2 separate regions of the Homo sapiens genome follow, and region 1 is linked to region 2. The links come from fine-mapping of genetic effects on gene expression. A gene starts in region 2. The other region holds a variant in brackets. All regions are shown on one strand. Distances are from middle to middle.

Region 1 (4,205 bases), 54 kb before region 2:
CCAGCCTGGTCAACATGGCAAAACCCTATCTCTACTAAAAATACAAGGCTGGGCGCAGTGGCTCACACCTGAATCCCAGCACTTTGGGAGGCCGAGGCAGGTGGATCACAAAGTCAGGGGTTCAAGACCAGCCTGACCAACATGGTGAAACCGCATCTCTACTAAAAATACATAATTAGCCAGGCATGGTGGTACATGCCTGTAATCCCAGCTGCTTGGGAGGCTGAGGCAGGAGGATTGCTTGAACCTGGGAGATGGAGGTTGCAGTGAGCCGAGATCACACCACTGCACTCCAGCCTGGGCAACAAGACCAAAACTCTGTCTTAAAAAAAAAAAAAAAAAAAAAAAATTAGCTGGGCGTGGTGGCACACACCTGTAGTCTCAGCTACTCAGAAGGCTGAGACACAAGAATTGCTTAAACCCAGGAGGCAAAGGTTACAGTGAGCTGAGATCACGCCACTGTACTCCAGCCTAGGTGACAGAGCAAGACTCAGTCTCAAAAAAAAAAAAAAAAAAAAAATCAAGAATCTACTATTGATTAAGCTATAGAGCCCAAAGAGTGTTCGAGTGTTCAATGAAATGTCTATAAACATAATGGAAGGGAAGACAAAAAATTCTCATCTCTCTGTATCTACTATGAAGTGTTCTCTGATACACATTATTGTTAAGTAAAAGAAACAAAGTATAGATTACCATTAATCTAAAGTGGGAAAAGGGAGACACACACACACACACACACACACACACACACACACACACACAAAGTCCCCCCCTTATCCAATTTCACTTTCTACAGTTTCAGTTACCTGCAGTCAACTGTGGTCCAAAAATTTTAAATGAGAAATTCCAGAAATAAAAAAGTCATTAAGTTTTAAACTGTGTGTTGTTCTGAGAAGTGTGATGAAATCTTGCACCATCCTGCTCCAAGTGGAATGTGAACCATCTCTTTGCCCAGCGTATCCACGCTGTATAAACTACTCTTCCATTAGTCATCAACATTATCTACTCTTGACATCCAACAATCAACATCATGGCTCAATGATCCAGGATGAACCAAAGCAGATGATTCTCCTTCTGTTACATCATTAGGTCAGTAGTAGCCTAACACTATGTCACAATGCCTTCATCATTCACCTCAGTTCATCTCACCAAGTAAGCATTTTATCATCTCATTATCACCACAAAGGTGAGTATAGAACAATAAGATATTTTGAGAGACCACATTCACATTTATCACGGTATATTGTTATAATTGTTCTACTTTATTATTAGTTGTTGTTAATCTGTTACTATGTCTAATACATAAACTTTATCAAAGGAATATATGTACAGGAAGAAGCACAGTATATACAGGTTTGGAACTATCTGTGATTCAGGCACCCACTAGGGGTCTTGCAACACATTCCCTGCAGATAAGGGGGGACTACTGCACACATACATATAGTTATATACATACAATTAGCTTATGTTTTTAAGAAGTGGAAAGATAAACCAAAACTTTCTTAAAAAACAAACAAAAAAAAAAGGTAAAAAGGTTGCCTGTTGGGGAAGAAGTAAAGAGGGAAATATATAAAAGCTAGATTCCCTGATAATACCTTGTTCTATACTTTCCACTTTGGAATCATGTAAATACAAAATAAAAAACAAAAGGTTGT[G/GT]TTTTTTTTTTTTTAAAAAAAGCAATCCCTTTAAAAACAATGAAACTATACAAAGCTGAGACAAAACACACAGAGAATTATTTCACATGAATTTTAAAATCCACTAAGTTGTGGGACATACCCTAAAGGACAGAAAGAAATGCAGATATAATTGCTTTCAGTAATCAGACTGTTGGTATTCTTATTATAAAACTGTCATATCTGTACTAAGGGACAAAGCAAATGAATAATTATGATAGTATGGCATGAACGAAGGTACAAACAGATGTCAGATAAGAAAAAAAAATCTATACTCCTGGACTTGCATTGAAAATATCAGTATGAACTCAAGTATTACCTCTTTAAAAAATACATGTTTTCTCAGACTTGCCACTTAAAAAGCTCAGAAACAATAATCAACCCAGTATCTATGAATACTCATAAGGCCAAATTGTGCTCTCTAAATACCATTTGGCCCATTCAAGTTCTGACTCAAGAAACGTAAAGATGAGCCTGAAACATTTTATCATACCAGATAGAGGGCTTCTCAGAAGGATGCAACAGTTAACCTGAAGAGGTTCCCAAAGACCAAAGGTTGGACAATTTCAATCACAACTTACATGAACTGAACTACATCAATGTTTTAAGTCATAAGTTCAAAACAGTATGCCAGTGGAACACACATGTGTATGCATGTGTATGCACACACGCACAATACACACACACACACACACACACACACCTGAAAACAAAAAGTAAACAAAATACAAAAAAAACAAAAAACAAAAAAAACCCTAGGTCACCTTTATTGGACATAATAGAACAAACATTATTTTGAAAATTGGTCAATAAAGGCAAATAATCAGGTAATTATCCTACTTTTCCTATGCAAAATGTACTCCATGGTAACAAATGGTTGACACGTGGAAGTATTACTTTTTAGAAGCATTACATATAATAAGTGAAGAATGACAGAATTACAATAGCAACGCTTTGCAACACAAACAAAATACTGGATCTAAGCTATGATGTCAATGGCTAGTAATACCACAAAAAGATTAACATTGTATACGTTTTGATGAAATTAAACACCTACTATGAAATATTCTTGTTCCCTGCTCCCCAAAATCAAATATGAATATGGTCAAGCCTACAGACTGAACTCCCAGTTTACAGGAAATACACAAGGCAGAGAACACAGAGAGGGCAGAGAACACAGTAAATGAATGACAGCCTAAAGATGCAACCATTAAAATCCAGACTATGAGAAACTTAACAAGACCATCAACCTGGATTTTTCAACAAATAAACCACAGAAAATACTTTTCTTTTTAAAAGGGGAAACCAACAGATTAAGAAACTTACTGACATATTAACCAACTACAATGCAGAGACTTATTCTGACCCTTACAAAGAACTTAAACAAAAGATATAAGAGACTCAGAAATTTCAACAGACTGTATTTTTATAAAACATAACCATAATACCATTACCCCACCTAAAACAAGTAACAGTAATTTTTTTATACCATTATCAATACCTTTATCTTTTACAGATGCATGATGAAATGTATGAAATGATATAATGTCTGGGATTTGCTTGAAAATAATCACAGTTGTGGGAGGAAGTAAGAATACAGACAAAACAACAAACAAGATTGGGCAGGAGCTGACCGTTGTTTAAGATGATCACAGATATAAGACGTTCTGACAAAGATTCTCTCCTTGACCAAACTCTCTTTTGTTTTTTCAATATATATTTATCGAATATATAGATAGATACACACACATACATACATATGCGTGCATGTGTGTGTGCGTGCATGTGTGTGTGCGCACATGTGTGAAGATAGGGTCTCCCTATGTTGCCCAGGCTAGTCTCAAACTCCTGGACTCAAGCAATCCTCCTGCCTCAGCCTCCCAAAGGCTACTCTGAACTCTCTTCTCAACTTGGCCCTAACTTTTGGACTTCTGTATTTGTCCCTGCATAGTCCAATTTTACCAAGAATCTTGCTTAAGTCAGTTTAGCCAGGATCCTCCCTTACCCATAATGTATCCTTTTAGTAATTTTTCATCCACTGCCCCGACCCTCTTCCTTGGTTATAAATTCCCACTTTTCCTTGCTGTATTTGGAGTTGGGCCCAATCTTTCTCCCCTACTGCAAAACTCCACTGCAGTAGTCTCTATGCTTATTGCAACAGTCCCTCTGAATAAAGTCTGCCTTAACATCTTTCAGCAAGAGTCATGAATAATCGTTTTCTTTAACCATTCATTACACTCATAATATTTAGCTGAAACACAAATTATTAGCTGTATTAATAATTAGGTTCATTTTAGAATCTGTGTTTATAAATCCTCCTTAGATGAACATGGCCAATTTACCATTCTAGCAGCTTCATCCAAGTCATCACAAGCAAGTATTTTAAGTCCACTGTCCGCTATCAGTGCCTTAGCATCATCGACTCGTGTACCTGTAAATGATTTATGCAAATATAAATGTTTTAAATACACACACAAAAGCATTTTAAAATGTTTGCCAAAACATGGTATAAGAATAAAACCTCAACAGAGG
Region 2 (4,205 bases):
GTCCCAGCCACAGAGTTCACAGGCATGTAAATAAACAACTGCAACACATATAAGAGCACTAGGTCACTAGCACATAAGTCACTAGGTGGCACCTAATTGGTTAGTTGGTCAGAGAAAATGTCACAAGGTCTCATCCCAGTTTAAATTTTTAAAAAATCTAATGTCTATAAAGAACACTTTGGGGACAACTAGAAAAATCTGAATCTAAACTATATATATTCATGTTACAGCAATGTTGAATTCCTAAGTATGATCACTGCGGTTATTTGGAAGAATGTCCTTATTCTTAAAGACATATGCTGAAATATCTATTTTCAACGAAGGTACACTAGGCTAAAGATACCAAGAAATTGGAGGAGGGTCAGAGAACTTAAACAAATGTTTAAAACAGGCCGGGTGCGGTGGCTCAAGCTTGTAATCCCAGCACTTTAGGAGGCCGAGGCGGGAGGATCACGAGGTCAGGAGATCGAGACCGTCCTGGCTAACACGGTGAAACCCCGTCTTTACTAAAAATACAAAAAATTAGCCGGACGTGGTGGCAGGCGCCTGCAGTCCCAGCTACTAGGGAGGCTGAGGCAGGAGAATGGCATGAACCCGGGAGGCGGAGCTTGCAGTGAGCCAAGATCGCGCCACTGCACTCCAGCCTGGGCGACAGAGCAAGACTCCGTCTCAAGGAAAAAAAAAAAAAAATGTGGAAAACAAATTGCTAAATTAAATGTGTGACCTTGAACGAGTTTCTTAAGACTCCGTACTTCTATGTCCTCATCTACAAAAGCAAAGGGTTGGACTAAGGTCCTTCCAAACTCTAGAGCTGCATTTCTTAATACCAGGGTAGAAGACAGCAACTGTTATAAAGAAAATAATATTGGAAATTTCCATAAGGAGAAATGAAGGCTTTTAAATGAACTTCCAAAAAGATAAAGATTTTGACTAGAATGAAAACGTATTTGTCACTAAATTCCCCATTTTCTAAAAACTAAATAGCACTCTTCTAAGATTCATAAGAAGGAAGTTCAAGGTCAAAAAGTCACTTCTATCGGGAAGCAAACTCACAGAACTCACTACCCCTAGGCTGAAAGTATGAACAACTTCAATAAAAATGAAAAAAAAAAAAAAAGGTAGGGGCGGGAGGGCCCTAAATCAATTCATACTATGACATGTATGAAGAGTTACTTCAGAAAAAAACCCAAAACTCTGGAATTGACTTAGGACACCAATAATGCCCTTCCACAGTTTTTTGTTGTCAAAGTTGGAAGGAAGATGTTTGTTTTCGAAGTTGTGGAGCCAACTCAAGTACACGGCTTTAGAACCAGACACCTCTGGGATTAAATCTCAGCTTTGATCTTACCTCCTATATGACCTAGTCCAAATTACTTGTTCTCTTAACCATAATATGTTCAACAATGATGCAGGTGTTGAATGACTTCCTCACAGTTGCTGAAAAACCTGAGAAACTACACGTAAAGCGCTTAGCACATTACCTGGCACACATCAAATATTCAAAACAAGGCCAGTAACTATTATGCTATAGCCTATCCAGAAATAAGGCTATACAAAAGATTATTTTCTTACCTCTCCAACTGGTTAGGTAGAAAACATAATCTTATTACTGCTATTAACAAGTAGAACAGTATACAACTACTTGGAGGAGAGGGGAAACTTCCCTACCTTGCCCCACAAAAGGCAAGTCAGTAAGCACCGCTGGTCCTCTGACATTCCCACCTATGACAGCTCCCAAGAAACACAAAAGTACTTTTGAAGGGCATTCCCCCCTGCCCAAAAAGGGGCGGCGCAAGTCTCAGCCCACCGTGCCAGACGCCGGAATGGCAGCAGAAAATGTCCTGACCCCCTCACCTCCACTCAGAGCCCACCTGCTCCCGCCCATCTCTTAGAAACTGCAGGAGCAGCCACGGCCGGGCCGCCGGGGATCCTCGCGGACTAAGGGCTGGGTCAGAGCCGCGCAAACATGGGCTCGCTCGTAGTCCTGGCGAGCAGCACTCCCAGGCAAGTCGCCCGAGGGCCTTGCAGGGCACCCAGAAAATGTCACTGCCGGCGAAGTGACCCCGAGCCGGGCCACGGGACCCCTCACACCTCACCCTTTCTCCTGCCGACCCTCGAGACGACAGCGGACTGGAAGGCATTACCTGAGCAGCAGCCCGCTGGGCCGTCCGAGGCCGGTGGTTCCGAAGGGTGGCCACGGCCACTAGCCTGCCGTAGAACATGGAGGCCGCCATTTCTGAGTCGGACCCCGTCCCCTCGGCGCCGCGCGCAGGCGCACAGGCGACAGGCGGCCCAAGGCGCAGCCTCTCTGCAGCGCTCACCTACGCCCCGCCTCGCGCCACCCGTTGGGGGCGGGGCCTCGGGTTAACACTGCAGCCGCTAGACCAGCTCCCTGGCGGGCGCGGAGCAAGCTTTGACCTTTGGAACTGGGCACCGCAGCCCCAATATCTGCCCTGCGGTCAGAGCAACCTGAACACTTCCTAGTGAATTGCAATGTAAAGGTGACCAGCGCCGCCACTTGGGTGATCTTAACTTCTCTCAGCCTCAGTTGCCTCATCTGTAAAATGTGTTTCATTCAAGAAATGATTACCCAGTGTCTACTTCGTGCTAAACAGCCTTGAGCCCTTGGCCTACAGCAATGAATAAAACCATTTGTGATGCTCAAAGAGAAGATGGTCGGTGTAACGCGCTTGTGATGCTCAAAGAGAAGATGGTCGGTGTCATGCGCTTCTGATGCTCAAAGAGATCGGTGTCACGCGCATCCGTGTGAAGACACCGCCAAACAGGGTGTGAGCAATAAGGCTGTTTATTTTAACTGGGTGCAGGCGGGCTGAGTCCGAAAAGAGAGTCAGCAAAGGGAGATAGGGGTGGGGCTGTTTTATAGGATTTGGATGGGTAGCGGAAAATTACAAAGGGGGTTTTTCTCTTACGGGCAGGGGCGGGGGTCACAAGGTGCTCAGTGGGGGAGGTTCTGAGCCAGGAGAAGGAATTTCACAAGGTTAATCACTCAGTTAAGGTGGGGCAGGAACAAATCACAATGGTGGAATGTCATCAGTTAAGGCAGGAACCGGCCAATTTCCCTTCTTTTGTGATTCTTCACTTGCTTCAGGCCATCTGGATGTACACGTGCAGGCTTGGGCTCAGAGGCCTGACAGTCGGCCACTAGTTACCAAAGCTGGTGGCAGGCTGGAGTCTCCAGGGAAGCTATTGATTGATTGATTGACTGATTGACAGGGTCTTGGTCTGTCACCCAGGCTGGAGTGCAGTGACGCGATCACAGCTCACTGCAGCCTCAACCTCCCATGCTCAAGGGATCCTCCCACCTCAGCCTCTGGAGTAGTTTGGGACCACAGATGTGTGTCACCAGGCTTGGTTGATTTTTTTATTTTATTTTTTTAGGGACAGAATCTCTCTATGTTGCCCAGGCTGGTCTCCAACTCGTGGGTTCAAGCGATCCTCCTGCCTCAGTCTCCCAAAGTGCTGGGATGACAGGTGTGGGCAACCACACCCAGCCAAGGATCTGGTTTTTGAAAAGATAAATAAATTTAACAAACCTCCAGCAAGACTGCAAAGAAAAAAGAAAAAGAGAAGACACAAATTACCAATGTGAGGAACATACCAGGGAATATAATTACAGAACCTTCAGACACCAAAAAGGAATGCCATAAATAACACCACATAACATAAATTTGACAACTTTGACAAGATGAGCGAATTCTTCAGAAGGCACAAATTACTACAAATAACCTAATATGAAAAGGTAATTTAAATAGTCCTCTAACTAGAGAAAATTGTAATTGTAATTTTTAAACTAAAAAAAAAAAAAACCTGAGATCTCCAGGCCCAAAAGCTTTCACTGATGAATTCTATAAAATGTTTACACAAGAATTAACACCAATTCCATACAGCCTCTTCCAGAAGATAGAAGAGGAAGGAACAGTTGCCAATGTACTGTATGAAGTTAGAATCACCCCACTACCAAAGCCAGCAAAAGACCGTACAAAAAGAAAAAAATACCAACACTTCTCATGAATATTGATGGAAAAATCCATAGCAAAATATTAGCAAATATAATTCAGAAATATATAAAAAGAATTGTACAATATGACCAAGTGGGATATATTCCAGAGATGTAAGTTTGTTTTAATATTTGAAAATATGTGTAATGCACTATATTAAGTTAGAAAAATCACATGATAATTTCG

Evidence for each region. PIP is the estimated chance that this variant, and not a neighbour inherited with it, causes the effect. A credible set is the group of variants that fine-mapping cannot tell apart.
Region 1: its variant is the best candidate, but not a certain one, in a credible set for the expression of SUCLA2 in whole blood (INTERVAL, PIP 0.85).

Annotation. Positions count from the first base shown.
Region 1 is chr13:47,944,925-47,949,129 of GRCh38, forward strand. SUCLA2 (succinate-CoA ligase ADP-forming subunit beta) reads right to left here. Exons shown (of 11, transcript NM_003850.3): 10 at 4,016-4,104. Among named protein-coding and RNA genes, the nearest start is that of LINC00562, 14 kb to the left of the region's middle. The variant G/GT (reference allele first, on the strand shown) is at 1,656.
Region 2 is chr13:47,999,036-48,003,240 of GRCh38, forward strand. SUCLA2 (succinate-CoA ligase ADP-forming subunit beta) reads right to left here and starts at 2,238. Exons shown (of 11, transcript NM_003850.3): 1 at 2,145-2,238. The coding sequence starts at 2,234. It overlaps SUCLA2-AS1 (SUCLA2 antisense RNA 1), which reads left to right and starts at 2,370. Exons shown (of 2, transcript NR_189308.1): 1 at 2,370-2,787; 2 at 3,400-3,656. RefSeq lists enhancers at 1,873-1,922, 1,943-1,992, 2,013-2,202, 2,579-3,778 and a silencer at 2,323-2,432.